Linked DNA regions of Homo sapiens: region 1 is linked to region 2. Evidence: fine-mapped expression QTL. Tissue or cell type: whole blood. Region 2 holds a variant in brackets; the other region holds the start of a gene. All regions are shown on one strand. Distances are from middle to middle.

Region 1 (8,107 bases), 43 kb after region 2:
AGGAGCTGAGGGAGGGGGATTGGGGGGAGTGAAATTTTACGTGGGCTTTGAAGGATGGTAGGATTGTTTATGCAAATGTGGGGGAGGGCGCTGAATTTGAGGTTGTGTGTGCGTGCACGTGCTTGGGTGTGTGTACACATGCAAATGCAGGGATGGGTAATAATAGGGAGCACTTAGTGAACACTCTCTATGCACCAGACACCACCTTATGGTCCCCAACATTCAGCTCATTTGACTGTGCATAACCTCATCAATTTGATAATAGTATCTTTCAATTAATAGATGAGGCAATTGAGGCACAGGGAGGTTGAGAGTAAATTGTCCAAGGTGACACAGCAAGTAAATAATATAAATGGGGTTAGATTCGAATCCATATCCTAAAAACACTTTGTTATTCTACTTGTAAACCCAGAATAAAATTTTAAGCCCCCTAAATGACTGAACAGACACACCCCCCAACACACACCCCCTACCTTGGCTAAGAGGACCTGGAAAGAAAACTTGAAAAACTAGCTCAGGCTGGCCAGATGCGGTGGCTCATGCCTATAATCCCAGCAGTTTGGGAGGCTGAGGAGGGCAGATTACCTGAGGTCAGGAGTTCAAGACCAGCCTGGCCAAAATGGTGGAACCCAGTCTCTACTAAAAATACAAAAATTAGCAAGGCATGGTGGCACATGCCAGTAGTCCCACCTACTCGGGAGGCTGAGGCAGGAGAATCACTTGAACCTCGGAGGCGGAGGTTGCAGTAAGCCGAGATTGCACCACTGCACTCCTGTCTAGGGGATAGAGTGAGACTCTGTCTCATGGAGGTTGGACTTTTTTTTTTTTTTTTTTTTTTGCTTAATGGGTATAGGAATTCTATTTGGGGTGATGAAAACTTTCAGAAATAGAGTAGTGATGGTTGCACATTGTGAATGTGATTAAAGTCATTAAATTGTACAATTAAAAATCGTTAAAACAACTAGGCGCAGTGGTTCACGCTTGTAATCCCAGCACTTTGGGAGGACGAGGTGGGTGGATCACTTCAGGCCAGGAGTTGGAGATCAGCCTGGCCAACATGGTGAAACACTGTTTCTACTGAAAATTCAAAAACTAGCTGGACATGGTGCATGCCTGTAATCCCAGCTACTTGGGAGGCTGAGACAGGAGAATTGCTTGTACCCAGGAGGCAGAGGTTGCAGTGAGCCAAGATGGCACCACTGCACTTCAGCCTGAGCAATAGAGCGAGACTCCATTTCAAAAAAAAGAAAAGAAAAAAATAGTTAAAACAACAAATTTTATATTTTACCACAATAAAAAATCATTAGAAACCTTGACAGAAACCATCACAAAATTTCCCATGTTCAAAAAACCTCAAGGACATTCTTCATTATACCCCCTCTCTTTGGAGTTTATGCACAATTGATCAGCATTCACATTAAAATAGAGATCATAAGACTGACAAAACAGACTCTTCGTGACAATAAAATACCAAATTCTAACCTGACCCTGGTATAGCACCACATGACAGAAAGCAGGCCCTGAAGGAAATCAAAGTATTTTACCCCAAAATACATTTCTTTGACATATGTTGAAATGGCCTTGCAAAGCTATCTCTTGTGGAGAAAATCTACATTCTATAGAGAATCTCCTTCCCTTTCCAGGTCCTTTCATGATCCAGGAGAGATTTAACTAAGAGTCGGACACGTTTTAAGGTCCAATAAGAGATTTTACATCTATTCTCTCTGAAGGTTGCTACCTGTAGGCTTCATCTACATAGCAAGAATCTTGGCTTCCACAATACCCGTTATCTTAAGCATTTCTTTCTGCTGACTTCAACTCTTTACTTTAAATAAAGCTTAACTTTTTCGACCAGTTGCTAGTCAGAAGTCTTTGAATCCACCTATGACTGTGAGCTTCCCCCAACCACCTGAGATGTCCCGCCTTTCCAGGCTGAGACCAATGTATACCTTACATGTATTGATTTATATCTTTGCCTGTAACTCCTGTCTCTCTAAAATGTATAAAACCAAGCTGTAATCCGACCACCTCGGGCACAGGATCTCAGGACCTTCTGAGGCTGTGTCACATGTCATGGTCCTCACATTTGGTGCAGAATAAATCTCAAATATTTTACAGAGTTTGGCTTTTTTCTTCAACATGCCTGTGAAAAAGGAATTTATGGCTCAATTTAGAAAACTGGCCTGGCTACAGTCATTATTAACCATAGTCATTGTTGCAAACTCGGGACAGTCTAGGCCAAATTCTCAACAGAAGCTCAGCATGGAAATTGGAGGGATTACTGAAGCCATTGGCTAAGTGCTATATCCTAATTCTTGCTTCCTTGAAGATAGCAACTTGAGGTTTTGGGATGCTGTATTCCATTGCTAGGTGCTCCCCAGCTTTGTCCTTAATGTTCCTTGGTTATGTTGCTGAGGATTTAACAAAACACTTAAGGAGAATGAACTAGTGAGCCTCTGAATCAAGCCTTGTTTGTTGTTGTTTATTAATTGGCACTTGTATTACTGGAAAGTGGTCTGGATGCAGACCCCAAGAGAGGGTTCTTGGACCTCTAGCAAGAATTCGGGGCAAGAAAGAATTTGGAGTAAAGTCAAAGCAAGTCTATTAAGAAAGTAAAGGAATAAAGAATGGCTACTCCATAGGCAGAGTAGCAGCTTGGGCTGCTCAACTGATAATTCTTATGGTTATTTCTTGATTATATGCTAAACAAGGGGTGGATTATTCATGAGTTTTCTGGGAAAGGGGTGGGCAATTCTCAGAACTGAGGGTTCCTCCCCCTTTCAGACCATATAGGGTAACTTCTGGACGCTGGTGGGAGTGACTTTTAGCATGCTAATGCGTTATAATTTGCATATAATGAGCAGTGGGGACGACCAGAGGTAACTGTCATCACCTTTTTGGTTTTAGTGGGGTTTGGCCGGCTTCTTTACTGCATCCTGTTTTATCAGCAAGGTCTTTGTGACCTATAATCTTGTGCCGACCTCCTATCTCATCCCGTGACTTGGAATGCCTAACTTTTTGGGAATGCAGCTCAGTAGGTCTCAGCGTCATTTTATCCAGGCCCTGTTCAAGATGGAGTCGCTCTGGTTCTAACGCCTCTGACACTTGGAGAACATCAGGCCTATGGTAGATGTTGTACAAAACTTGGAGTCAGACAAGGCTACCTGGCTGTACTTGTTCGGAAAACCAGACTTGGAAAAAACGGGAGGGCGATGGCCTGATAATACAGTAGATTGCATTTTATGTTTTGAGCCTGGCTTGCAGCCAACATCCAAAAGTGTTTCCTAGGCAAGGTGCCTAACTGTGTTTTTCTGGATATTCTTCTAACTCATCGTGAGTCTTCAATAAATATTAAATAAACATGAGGAAGGTCCTGAGAAGGTCCTTTTACTGACCCTTGTCTCAAGAAAAGCAAATAGCCGATCGGTAAAAAGCAGCAGGTAGGAAGAGGGGATTTTATTTCCGTCAGTTGCCCTTATCCAGGTTTTGGGCTTAGTGCTGCTCCTCCACACTCATATAGTCCTGGCTGGCTTTTCCACGCATAGGTTAGGAAGCAACTGCTCTGGGGAGGGGGAAGGGGGGAAGAGGGGGAGGGAAAGAGGTCACGGGAAGCCTCCCTTCCTCCCACTGGCCTACCATTGAAGGCCTGTCAGGAGAAAGGAGAGAAGTGGGAGAGGGAGAGGGTGTGGCAGGGGTGGTCTGTGTGGCAAGAGGTAGAGAGAAAATAGTGGATCAGAGCAGGAGGGGGAGGAGCAGGGAAATGAAGCTCCTGTCCTAGGCACTGAAGTGTGGAGTGGGGCTGTGGCTAGAAAGGGGAGAGAAGATGCCTTTCTGGCCTTGCATGAGTCGTGGCAGAAAGGAGGAATCGCGAAGAGGAGCCGGCCATACCCAGCACACACCCCGAAGCCAAGCTGCTCATTACTAGAAAGGCTTATTCCCCCACAAGAAGTTAGTGCGGGCCAGCTAAGTGCCTACTATGTGTGCAGTATAGAAAGAAGTGCCCTGGAGAACCAGGTCGCGGGAGGCGGAGCCAGTCAACAGGGCTTCACCGAGGGGGCGAATTCTGTACACGGTTGTGAAGGAGGGTGGCTGTGCACGCGTGCAGGCTCCGAGTGCAGAAGACGAGGCAGGCCAGGGAGGAGGCGGAAGGAGGCGGAGCCTGAGCCGGAGGAGGGAGGAGGAGGGAGGAGGAGGAGGGAGAGCCGAAGCCGCGGAGGGTGGGAGGTGTGAATGGTGGACGGGTGAGGGGAGTGCCAGAGGCAGAAAAGGGAAGGAGGCGAGGAGGAGTAGTCGTGGCCCGAGGGCGTGTGGTGGGGCGAGAGCTGAACTGGACGGGAGGAGGGAGGCAGTGGCGGTGGCAGCGGGGAGGGGGAGGAGAGAGGGAGGGGAAGAAGGAGGAAGCGAGCGCGGCTGCTGCAGGGGGAGGAAGACGGGGAGGAGGAGCCGTGCGCCGCGGCGGCGGCCGCCAGGGGAACCGAGCGCCCGGCGCGGAGAGCGCGGGAGCGGAGCAGTAGCCCGATCCGGGGCCGCGGGCCGAGCTGCCGGTGAGTGAAGCCCCGAGGGGCGCGGCGGCCGGTCCCCGGGGCTGGGCGGGAGGCGCGGGAGGTTGCGGCGCCGGGGAGGAGGGAGGGGGGCCGGCTTTAGTCCAGGGGCCGGCTTTAGTCCAGCCCCCGGCTGGCCCGGCCTCCCGCCTTCCCTCTGGCTTCCTCCCTCCGCTGCCTGCGCGAGGGGGGCAGGTCCCGGGCGGGCCGCGGGCTGGGGGTGGTGCTGCCCGGAGGGCGGGCGTCTAGGGCCGGAGGGTGGAGCTGGGGGTTCGGGGGTGTACCCGGGGGCGGGAGGCTGGACAAGGACGGCTCTAAATTGGCTGGAGGGGCCCGTCGGCGGCGAAGTTGCTAGCTGGGGGCAGAGACGGCCACGCGGTTGCAGGAGTAAGAGATCCCTCTGTGGCGAGTGCGTGAGACGAGGAGTCCGGCGTCCCTGCCATCCCCGTCGCCCTCCCCGCCTGCTCGGCCCCGCTAGCTCCTCTCCTTGCCTCCGCGTGTCCCCTAGCTCTGACCCCTTTTGGCTCCCGGTTCGCTGCCGCAGCACTGCCGGGTCTCCTTGGCCCCCGCCCTGACCCTTTCGGCCTCCGGCTTCCCCTGACCCCTGCTTGCTTCGCCACTGCCCCGTTCCCGTTTTCTTCCCTCGCTAGTTACCCCTCCCGCTTCCTAATTCCCGGTGCAATTGCCTCTTTGAGACCTCTTTTTTTTTTTTTTCCTCTCCTTCCTTTTAGATTGGCCAACGGCTCCTTTCAACCCTGCCTCGTTGGTGGCCACTGGAGAAGCGCGGGGGGCTCCCCCAGACAGCCGTGGGGACAAGTTAGAGCCAGCACTTTACCCCGGGCCTTGCGTGTAGCTTCCCCTCCCCTACTCTCGGTGCCCTGGTGTCTGGAGGGGGGTTGTGGGGGTGTGCCCGCCTTACATGGTCCACCACCCGGGCAACCCTCTGGGCTTGTGTTCCATCTCACTCTTGCTTCCTGTACTGTGGTCAAGGGGAACCACTGCATCATGTCCCGGTATAGCTACCAGAGTCTCCTGGACTGGCTCTATGGGGGCGTGGACCCCAGTTTTGCAGGCAATGGGGGCCCCGACTGTGCTGCCTTCCTCTCTTGGCAGCAGCGGCTGCTGGAAAGTGTGGTGGTCCTGACCCTGGCTCTGTTGGAGATCCTGGTGGCCCTGCGGCACATCCTGAGGCAGACGAAGGAGGACGGTAGGGGTAGCCCTGGCAGCCAGCCAGAGCAGGTGACCCAGCGGCCAGAGGAAGGCAAGGAGAGCCTGAGCAAGAATCTGCTCTTAGTAGCCCTGTGCCTGACCTTCGGGGTGGAGGTGGGCTTTAAGTTCGCCACCAAGACCGTCATCTACCTGCTCAACCCCTGTCACCTGGTCACCATGATGCATGTGAGTCTGTTGACTTTTTCCTGGGCATCCTAAGTGATAAGAGTCATTTATGTGCTCAGGACACTCCATAGTGTACAGCACCTCATCCCGGCGGGCAGGGGGACCTTTAAAAATGATTTTCCAACGAGTGGCTGCCTTTGTGCCGATTTCAGGTTTGGCTTTCTTTCACCTTTGCACAGTGCGTCAGCCCCACAGTGGAGGTGAGGAACCTTGTGCCTGAACCCTAGGAACGACTGGCACTCACCCTGGCTGCCCCTCCCTTCCAGCCCAGCCCAACCCTGCCGTGCCCTGGGCTTTCACAAGCAGGAATTCCAGCCCCAGCCAGGTGCCCTTTCTGAATCACATCAGTGGACCATGACCCAGCTCCCTTGCCTTCTGTGGTAGTTAATTTCCCAGGGGCCTGGTGACACTCTTTCCTGGAGGTGGTCGCATAAACTTTCTCATCTACACTGTGGTACTTTGGGGAAATACTTTTACAGGTTTCTCTTAATGACTCTTTCATTTGGGAGTGTATGCTCTTAGAGTGAGGTCTGCCTTTGCATTTTGAGGCATTGGAGCAGCACCAAGCTCCTACTAAATGAGTTCTGAAGCAGGTCCCCAGGCTGACATGTGTACTTTGGGCTGGTGATCACTATGGTGAGAGGGTATTTCTTTTTTTGCAAACCTCTCCATCCTATTACTGTCATTCTGTCTCCTATGGTCATAGTCCAAGGGTGCTTAGGAAGCTGATTTCTTTACCTCATCGACTTCCACCCATTAGCGGTGCTAAGGAAAACAAATGGGATTGAAAAGGCAAGTTGCCAGATACATAAAAATAATCTGGGTGAGGACCAAGAGTGAGACTGTCTGTATTCAGCCTGTGTGGAGAGATGTTCTAAAGCTATAAAATCATGGAGGAGGAGGAAGAGGAGACTGGGAGAGCAATCAGTCTTTTTTAGATTTCAGGCTGTGGAAAACCGGGTGTGTTTTATTCAGGGGCAGTTTTGAAACCTGTCATTAGCATCTTTACTGCCTTTATGTTTGTAGAAGGTTATTCTTTGGAGACTTGTGACAGCCTAGCTTGGGGCAGGAGGTTGAGATTATTATCTCCATTTTACAGGCCTGGAGGGGTTTAGGAATGGCAGGTCATTTGCTTGCAGCCAGAAGATGAATTAGTGCCTGGGTTAGAAAGCAAACTCATCCACCTTGAGGTTGCAAGCTGTCAACCCCAAAGTGAGGGTGGCAGTGGGTGGTGGGGCAGTCCTGTGGGAAGACTCAGGCAGATGAGCACCACACTGTCTACCCATGGCTTGGATACTTGCTTGCACTGTGTTCCTAGGAACTCATTTGATTGCAGGCTTCTGGATGTGGTGAATGACCCCAGCCCCTTCCCTTCTTGCAGATATGGTAAGAAGGTATGGATAACTTTGGAATAAAGTGGCTGTTTTTGATTGGGTGGCTGTAAGCATCGGGGCTGGAGTGGGCAGCATTTTTTAAGAGAGGGCTTCTTGGGAAGTGATGCCATTCACAGGAAGTCCAGGGCTGTCCCAGCTAGACCTTCTGTGTAAATTTGAGCCAGTCTTCTTTCTTTCTTTTTTTATGAATGGGCTTTTTGTTAATGATAGGAAACAACGCATCTCAGCCGATGCTGTGTGAGGCTGTCGGGACAGGAGTGCTTTTTTAGGATGGCAGGTGGTGAGGGTCAAAGGGTGCATCTTCTACAAAGTGGTCTTGAGGCCTCTGGCAATCACATATCTAGAAGGTCGACAAAGGACTAAATTCAGCCTGACTGGAGCTGCGGCTGATGTGATGACGTCAAGACTGGCAACACCATGGTTTTTAGAAGCAAGATTTTTAGAGGCTCTCAGAAGACTCTGGAGACCTAGTGCTAGCATTAATTCATTGTATGACTTTGGAGAAAGTACTCTTCCTGGGCCTCAGTTTGCCTACCTTGTGAAATGAGGCAGAGTTGCCCTCCTAGCTCTTGACAGTCTATGTGATTCTTGTCTCCATAAGTCGTAGATGGGTATGCAACAGAGAGCTATTCTGAAATGCTTTTGACCTCCTGTGTGGAAAAAAAGGAAGCTAGTTTCTTCTCTGTGGAAGTCAGGTGGCCAGTTCCCATTCATTGTTTTCTCCCTGTGTCTTCCCAGTAAAGTAAACTCAACTGGGCCATGCTTGGGAACTCATGC
Region 2 (8,107 bases):
TAGGTGCTGCCTGTCCTAGAACACTGTATGCAGGTTGCACTTTTGCAATGAGCTAGAGAAGGCCCAGAGCTATCTTGGAGACAAGGGCTGCTGTATTAGGGAATCCTAAACAGATTGCCTCTTTTCTGTGGGAAAAGTTGAAGAGGATACCATCAAATGTATGATTCAATATGTGTGGGAGACTGCATAGCATATTGGCTAAGGACTTGGGATTCTTTAGTCCAATAAATCAGGGTTTGAATCCTGGATCTTCTACTTTCTAGCTTTTTGATTTTGGGAATGTCACTTTACTGCTCTGAGCTTCAGTTTCCTCAACTTAAATGGGCATACTAAGACTTGGATTCTGAGGATTAAATGGGAATTGAGAGTAAATTCTTTAGCCGAAATCTGCAATGTAAGTGTACAATAAACTTTAGGACTTATAAACTAAGTCCTAAAATTAGAGAACTAGAGAAATGGTACTTCTTAGAGCATGTCTTAGTCAGTTTGGGCTATTACAACAAAGTGTTTTAGACTGGGTAGCTTATAAACAACAAAACATTTATTTCCCACAGTTTTGGATGCTGGAAACCTGAGATCAGGGTGCCATCATGGTTGGATTCTGGTGACGGCTCCCTTCTGGGTTGCAGACTTCTAACTCCTTGCATCCTCACATGGAGGAAAGAGGGTGACAGAGCTCTCTGATTTTTTTTATTTTGTTTTATTTTGTTTGTTTGTTTACTTGTTTTGAGACGGAGTCTCGCTCTGTCTCCCAGGCTGGAGTGCAATGGTGCAATCTCAGCTCATTGCAACCTCTGCCTCCCGGGTTCAAGCAATTCTGCCTCAGCCTCCTGAGTAGCTGGGATTACAGGCGTGTGCGACCACGCCCAGCTAATTTTTGTATTTTTGTCAGAGACGGGGTTTCACCATATTGGTCAGGCTGGTCTCGAACTCTGGATCTCACAATCCACCCTCCTCGGCCTTCCAAAGTGAGGGGGTTATAGGTGTGAGCCACCACACCCAGCCTCTGGGGTCTTTTTAATAAGGGCACTAATTCCATCATGAAAACTTCACCCTCATGACCTAATTACCTCCCAAAGGCCCTGTCTCTTAATACCATCATGTTGGGGGGTAGAATTTCGACCTGTGAATTTTGAGGAGGCGCAAGAGATGATTCAGTCCTTAACAGAATGTGAAGGAGGCAATGCTAGCAGATATAAAAGGAAAACTTAATGTACCCTACACAAAGTACCAGGCATATAAACCACAATAACAGCAAGGGCTAACACATGTTGAATACTGTGAGGCAGACAATATTCCAAATAGGTTACATGTAATAGCTCATTCACCCTTTGAGGGGAATACTACCAATACCGTCATCCCCACCTGACAGACAGAGAAGGCTTTGGCAAAAGAGGTTAAGTAACTTGGCCAAGGTTACACAACTTGTATGTGGAGCTGGGAGTCAAACCCAGGAAATCTGGCAACAGTCTATGCACTTAACAATTCTGTTATTCTCACAAGAAATTTTACAGGTTGAGATTAAAAATAGCTTCAGGAAGAGATTGTGCTATGGGCTGAATGTTTGTGTCCCTCCAACCCCAAATTCATATGTTTAAATCCTACCCTCCAAGGTGATGGTACTTGGAGGTGGGGCCTTTGGGGTGATTAGGTTATTGGGATCAGTGTCCTTACAAAAGGAACACCAGACTGGGTGCAGTGGCTCATACCTGTAATCTCAGCACTTTAGGAGGCCAAGGCAGGCGGATCAGTTGATCCCAGGAGTTCAAGACCAGCCTGGGCAACATGACAAAACCCCGTCTCTACAAAATTCAAAAATTAGCTGGGGGTGGTGGCACGCACCTGTAGTCCCAGCTACTCAGGAGGCTGAGGTGGATGGATGGCTTCAGCCCGGGAGGCAGAGGTTGCAGTGAGCTGAGAACATGCCACTATACCCCAGCTTGGGCACAGAGCCAGACTCTGTCTCAAAAAAAAAAAAAAAAAAAAAAAAGAGTGAGAGAGAGAGAGAGAGAGACAGAGAGACCCAGAGAGCTAGCTAGCCTCTTCTACCACATGAGGGTCCATTGAAAAGTTTCTGTCAATGAACCAGAAAGCAGGCCCTCACCAGACACCAAATGGGCCAGTGCCTTGTTCTTTGACTTCCAACCCTCAGAACTATGAGAAATTTCTGTTGTTTATAAGCTACCCGGTCTATGGTATTTTGTTATAGCAGCTGAAAGACTAAGACAGATTAGATTAAAATCTCAATGATTTTTCCCTAAACTAAATGAAAGGTAAAATGAGATATTTAGGATATTTGGGACATCCTTGCTCTTTGAGGGTGATGTCAATGTCGTGTACCTCACACATGCCCCTCCTCATGCCCCCATTCACTTGTTTATGTCCATCTTTTATCTTGGTTTGAAGCCACTTTCCCAGAGGAGCTTTTGCTGATCCTCCAGTGTAGGTTACACCCTCCCCGACCCATCTCCCCGCCCTCATACTTCTCACAATAATAAGGTATATAATTATTTGTTTACTAGCTCCCATACTAGACAGAACACTTTAGTGGATCTGTTTCGCATATTATTGTATTCCCATCCCCTAGCACAGAGGTCATCAACCTATGGCCTGTGGGCCAAATCTAGCCTAACTTATATTTGTAATAAATTTGTATTGGCATACAGCCACACCAATTCATTTACATATAGTCTATGACTGCTTTCTCACTACAATAGTGGAACTGAGTAGTTGAAAGAGAGATCATATGGCCCAAAAGGCCTAAAAACATATTTACTATGTAGTTCTCTACAGAAAAAGTTTGCCAACCCCTGGCTAACGAATAGATATACAATACAGATTTGTTTAATGAATGAACATACTTATTTATTTAATAAACATTTACCTAGCACTTACTATTGTCAGACACTATTCCAAGTGCCTTGCAAATATGAATTCATTTTTTCCTCATAACAACTCAACAACTCAATAAGATAGGTGGTGTTATTATTCCCATGTTAGAGAGGAAGAAACTGGGAAACAGAGGTTCAGTATCCTCACCAAGATCACACAGTTTGTAAGTAACTGAGCTGGGATTCAAAACCCAGGCATTTGGGCTCCAGAGCCCATGCTATGTACTCAGCATCAATGGACTATGGCTCAGACCTAGTTTGAGTTTTTGTTTTGTTTTGTTTTGGTTTGGTTTGGTTTTTTGTTTGTTTTGTTTTGTTTTGTTTTGGTTTGGTTTTTTGTTTGTTTTGTTTTGTTTTGTTTTGTTTTTTGTTTTTTGGTGTGCTAATGAAAGAACTGCTGAGTGGCTTCATAAGGGGAAGGATGTGGTCAAAGAAGCAAAAGGAGATAAAGTGGCCTAACTCCACATAGCCTTTAGAACTTAGTTGATGCCAAGGAGATGCTAAAACAAATACAAATTAGCAAAGCATCATTAGGATCTCACCATAGCTAATGGAACCAAGGAAGTTTTCTCCAAAAATGAGCTGAAGTTTTTATTATCTCCCTACCTGTGACTGGTTAACACTCTCATTAAAGCTTTCAATTCACTCTGAGGCTAGATAAGTTTGTTTTACTCTCTTACATGGCCAAACGCTATACTTCTCCCCTGCCACAACTAATTGTCTTCCAATGCATCCCACGGTGGAACAAGGCACTTGGAATAGTGTCTGTTTGGTGCCAGTTCATCCCCCTCCAAAAAAAATAAAAAGCCCATAACTATAGTTGTTGTATTAGACAATTCTTCTTCCTGTCCCTGCACTGCCTGCGCTGTATTCCAGCTGCCAATCAGGAGGATCAGCAAATGCCATCCAAAGTAGCATCTTGAGCTATAATGAGTCCTTGCTGCTGACTGGGCTCCTTTGTAGTATGCTGGAAGTAGTCAACTTGTTTGTAAGGCTTGGGAGACCTTGTACATGAGTGTGAAGGGTCAACAGAATCAAGATAGCTGAGACCTAAAGGTCTGAGAGAGACCAAGAGAGTCTATTCTCTTCTTGGTAAGATAAGTAGGATCCCAGGATACTACATCCATACTGGGGGCCTGGGCTAGGAATCTGGGTTGAGCTTGGGGTTAGATCTGCCTGTGGTGCTCCAGAGCTTGAACTCAAAGGTGATCTGACAGCCAGCGATCAGGGGAGAAGTTGCTAATGAAATTCAATAGACAATCCAACTGAAGGGTCAATTCCAATGGGCACACTAAAGGGAGAGAATCTGGGCTCTGCAAAGCTAGTAAGAAAACGTGGCACAGCAGAAGAGAGCAAGAGGAGTCAGGACAGTGAGTCAGAGGTAGAGCCAATGGAGATTCCCTGAGCTCTTGGGATAGAGTTGCAGAAACTTTTTATTGGGTGACTTGGCCTTGCCTTTGAGTAGGGATGACCTAGCAACAGGCTGCCAGAATTTAAATTCCAACTGCCATCCTGGGCCACCAAGGAGTCCTGCTTATTAACTATGGGATCTGTGGCTAGCCACTCACCCTACTTATGCTTCAGTTGCCACATCTGTAAAAGGGAGATAGCAGTGTAGTACTTACCCTGTTGGGTTGACAAAATAAGATAACATTGTAAGTACTTAGTGCACATAAGCAGTGTATATTGCCTAATATTTTTAAAGGACATCCAATTGGCTCAAAGGACAAGTGTAAGCCAGTTTCAGACAAAACCTGCATATTGCCCACATCCTGACTCAAAA[C/T]CCACAAGCAGGTCTCCCAAGTAGGGGGCAGGGGCAGTGCTAGTGCTGCTGTTCCTCTGGTTGGTTCTGCAAAGGCTACCACTTCACAGGCCAGTTGGCAGCAGGAGTTCAGGGCAAGTGAAACCACTCTTTGATCTCAACTTTTGGAGGGGGTCTTTTCTCATTCCCAACAATCTCTATTCCTCCAAGTGAGCAGGTCCTTCTAGCCTGATCCTGTGAAAGACAAAAGCTGCTTACATAGCCATAAGATATGGTTTGCATCTGCGTCCCCACCAAATCTCTTGTCAAATAGTAATCCCCAGTGTTGGAGGTGGGGCCTGGTGAGAGGCACTGGATTTGGTGCCCCCTCCAAAAGTTGAGATCAAAGAGTGGTTTCACTGCTGAGCAGATGCCAGCATCATTCTTCCTGTACAGCCTGTGAAACCATGGGCCAATGAAACATTTTTTCATTATAAATTAGCCAGTCTCCGATATTTCTTCATAGCAATGCAACAACAGCCTAATATACCATACAAACAGAAGTGCTCGAGACTTCATGTTTTCCACAGTCGAGAACTGTCAAGATTTCCCAAAGAAGGCTTGGTCACATCACTGGGAGATGTGGGAAGGTAGAAGGGTAACGTATGGATTTGGAAGCTTTATAATTACAGTGACATGGGGATGCTTGGTAGAGCAATTGCTAAAGAGAAGGCCCTGTCTTACATTACAGGCATCTTTGCCATCCTTTCTGTTTTGCAAAGTGTATAGGCCAGTGTTTCTCAAAGTATATTTCACCTATTATTCTTCTGGATTCCCAAGTTCTGACCCATTAAACTCAGCCATCTGCATTTTTAACTAGCTCCCACGTAGATTCTGTTATTCTATTTTATAATTTAATTTTTGAACAGATGATGTGTTCACATGGCACAACACTTTAAAAATATAAATGTATAGCATGGAAGTCTCTCTCCTATTCCTGTCCTCAGCTGCCTGGTTCCCACCTTACCCTACCCCCACCTGCCATAAAAATCCAGGTAACAACTGTTATTTATTTCTTATGAATCCTTTCAGAGTTTCTTTATCAAATATAAGCAAATGAAGATTATATATAGTACATCTATATATAATATAGAGTCTGTAACACATATGATCTATAAAATATATTTTATATTATATACAATCTATTATATACATAATATAGAGTATAGATTATATAATCTATATGATCTATATAATTAGTATAATAGTCTATAATCTATATATAATATATAGATTATATAAATATATATATCACTTCTTCCCCATAAGAATTAGCATACTTTACATACTATTCTGCACCTTTAAAAAATAATGTAATTTAAAGATCTTTCCGTATCTGTCATAGAGAACTTCCTTACTAGTTTTCACAGCTGTATAGCATTCCATTATATGGATGTACCAGACCTTATTTAACCAGTTACTTTTTGATGGGCACATGGGTTGTTTCCACTATTCCACTAATACAATCAATTGACATACTGAATTACCTTGTATACACATCATTTTGCAGATATAGGATACATTTCCAAATAGCAAGTTACTTCTCTAATTGATTCTGGTGCCCACTGGAACTTAGGAACCACTGGCTTAGGGGTTGCTGATGTGATAGGTCTAATTTACATTGAATGAAGCCTTTATATTAAGACTCACAGAATGGCAGAGCTGGAGAAGCCCTTAGATATCTTCTTCCTCATTTTACAGGTGAGAAAATTGATTCTATATCAGGGAAGCGATTTGCTCAAGGTTACACAGCATGTTGGTAGTAGAGCTGAAACTGGAACCCAGGTCTCCTTGCTCCTAGGGCAGTGTTCTGCTGCCTGTCATTATCATCAAGAAATAAATGTGGAGTGCTCTGTGCAGTATACTGTAATCTCTATCTGGGGCAAATAGGGGATGCATTGGAAAGGTAATGCAATGTAGTCTGTGCTAAATGCCAGATCTCTGTGGACATGGAATAGCAGACTTTCATAAGACATCAGAATTAAACAGGTAAACTGTTCCATAAACTGTTTTGAGCTCTTGACTTCCTTATACAGAATGAAGAAAGGCCAGTGGTTCCCTATGCATCTAATTTAATGTAAATTCTGAGAAGAGCAAAACTTTTGTGTCTCTGTGCAGCTTCTTTAATGGGTTTGTTGGAGAAGGGAAAGTGTAGCTATTGACTTACTACTGAAGACCAAACTCCTAAAGAAGGTGACTTGGAGTTGGTAAATCTCAGTGGGGCCCATTTCTTATTCTGTAGATCCATTTCATGATGTAGAAAAAGCTTCCTAGTGCCGGGCGCAGTGGCTCACGCCTGTAATCCCAGCACTTTGGGAGGCCAAGGAGGGTGGATCACGAGGTCAGGAGTTCAAGACCAGCCTGGCCAAGATGGCGAAACCCCATCTCTAGTAAAAATATAAAAATTAGCCAGGTGTGGTGGCAGGCACCTGTAATCACAGCTACTCAGGAGGCTGAGACAGAGAATTGCTTAAACCGGGGAGGCGGAGGTTGCAGTGAGCCAAGATGGGGCCACTGCACTCCAGCTTGGGTGACAGAGCGAGACTCTGTCTAAAGAAAAAAAAGAAAAAAAAAAGAAAAAAGAAAAAGAAAAGAAAAAGCTTCCTAGAGCAAACCAAAGTCTTCCAGAAAAAATAAGTGGTGATTGAAAGCCCCTCACCCCCAGAATCTCTTCCCCAACATTAGAGATTTATCTTTTTCAGCTATGGCCTCCCTGAGATGCTTTCTGTCTCTGTCACATTTTATTTATTTATGTATTTATTTATTTTAGAGACAGAATCTTGCGCTGCTGCCCAGGCTGGAGTGCATTGGTGTGATCATAGCTCACGGTAACCACTCCTAGGCTCAAGCAACGCTCCTGCCTCAGCCTCCTGCGTAGGTAGGTAGGTAGGACTACAGACATGCACGACCACGCCCTGCCAATATATATATATATTTTTTTTTTGTAGTGATGGGGTCTCGTTGCCCAGGCTGGTCTCAAACTGTCACCTTTTATTCATTGTGGAGGGAAGGTAGAATGGTGTTAAAGTAACTCTCATCAATCTCAAAGCTTTCCAAATCCTTTTATAGCAACTTCAACCTTGTTTTCAGTATCTCAGCCAAATAAAGGGGAAGTTTTTTGTTTTGTTTTTTTAACTAGGTTAATCATTTTACGGGGTATTGTGCAAACAGGACGATGGTTTGTTTGTTATGCTTATTTCTGATCTCAGAAGGAGCAAATATCCTAGCTGAAGAGTTCTAGACAGGTACCAAGGGAGCCTGGGATTTTGAGCTGCAAGGGCTGTGTGCAGCAGTCAGAGGAGATGCATCCTTTATGCCATTATCAGCCACTCTACAGTTCTAATTTTGATGAGAACAAGACAATTGTTAAGCGAAGTGCTCCTTACTTAACAGTTTAATCAACCATAGCAGAAAC

Which allele goes with the higher level. Positions count from the first base shown, and alleles are read on the strand shown. Sizes are in standard deviations (SD) of each study's normalised expression.
For the expression in whole blood of the gene that starts at base 4,886 in region 1, C is the high allele of the variant in region 2 and T is the other (small effect, 0.35 SD a copy in GTEx).

The links. PIP is the estimated chance that this variant, and not a neighbour inherited with it, causes the effect.
Region 1: TMEM164 starts here. The variant in region 2 is fine-mapped to the expression of TMEM164 in whole blood (TOPMed, PIP above 0.99).

What each region holds. Positions count from the first base shown.
Region 1 is chrX:109,998,229-110,006,335 of GRCh38, forward strand. TMEM164 (transmembrane protein 164) reads left to right here and starts at 4,886. Exons shown (of 7, transcript NM_032227.4): 1 at 4,886-4,950; 2 at 5,273-5,936. The coding sequence starts at 5,547. RefSeq lists a silencer at 4,131-4,990 and an enhancer at 5,093-5,748.
Region 2 is chrX:109,955,127-109,963,233 of GRCh38, forward strand. No RefSeq gene overlaps it. Among named protein-coding and RNA genes, the nearest start is that of TMEM164, 44 kb to the right of the region's middle. The variant C/T (reference allele first, on the strand shown) is at 4,675.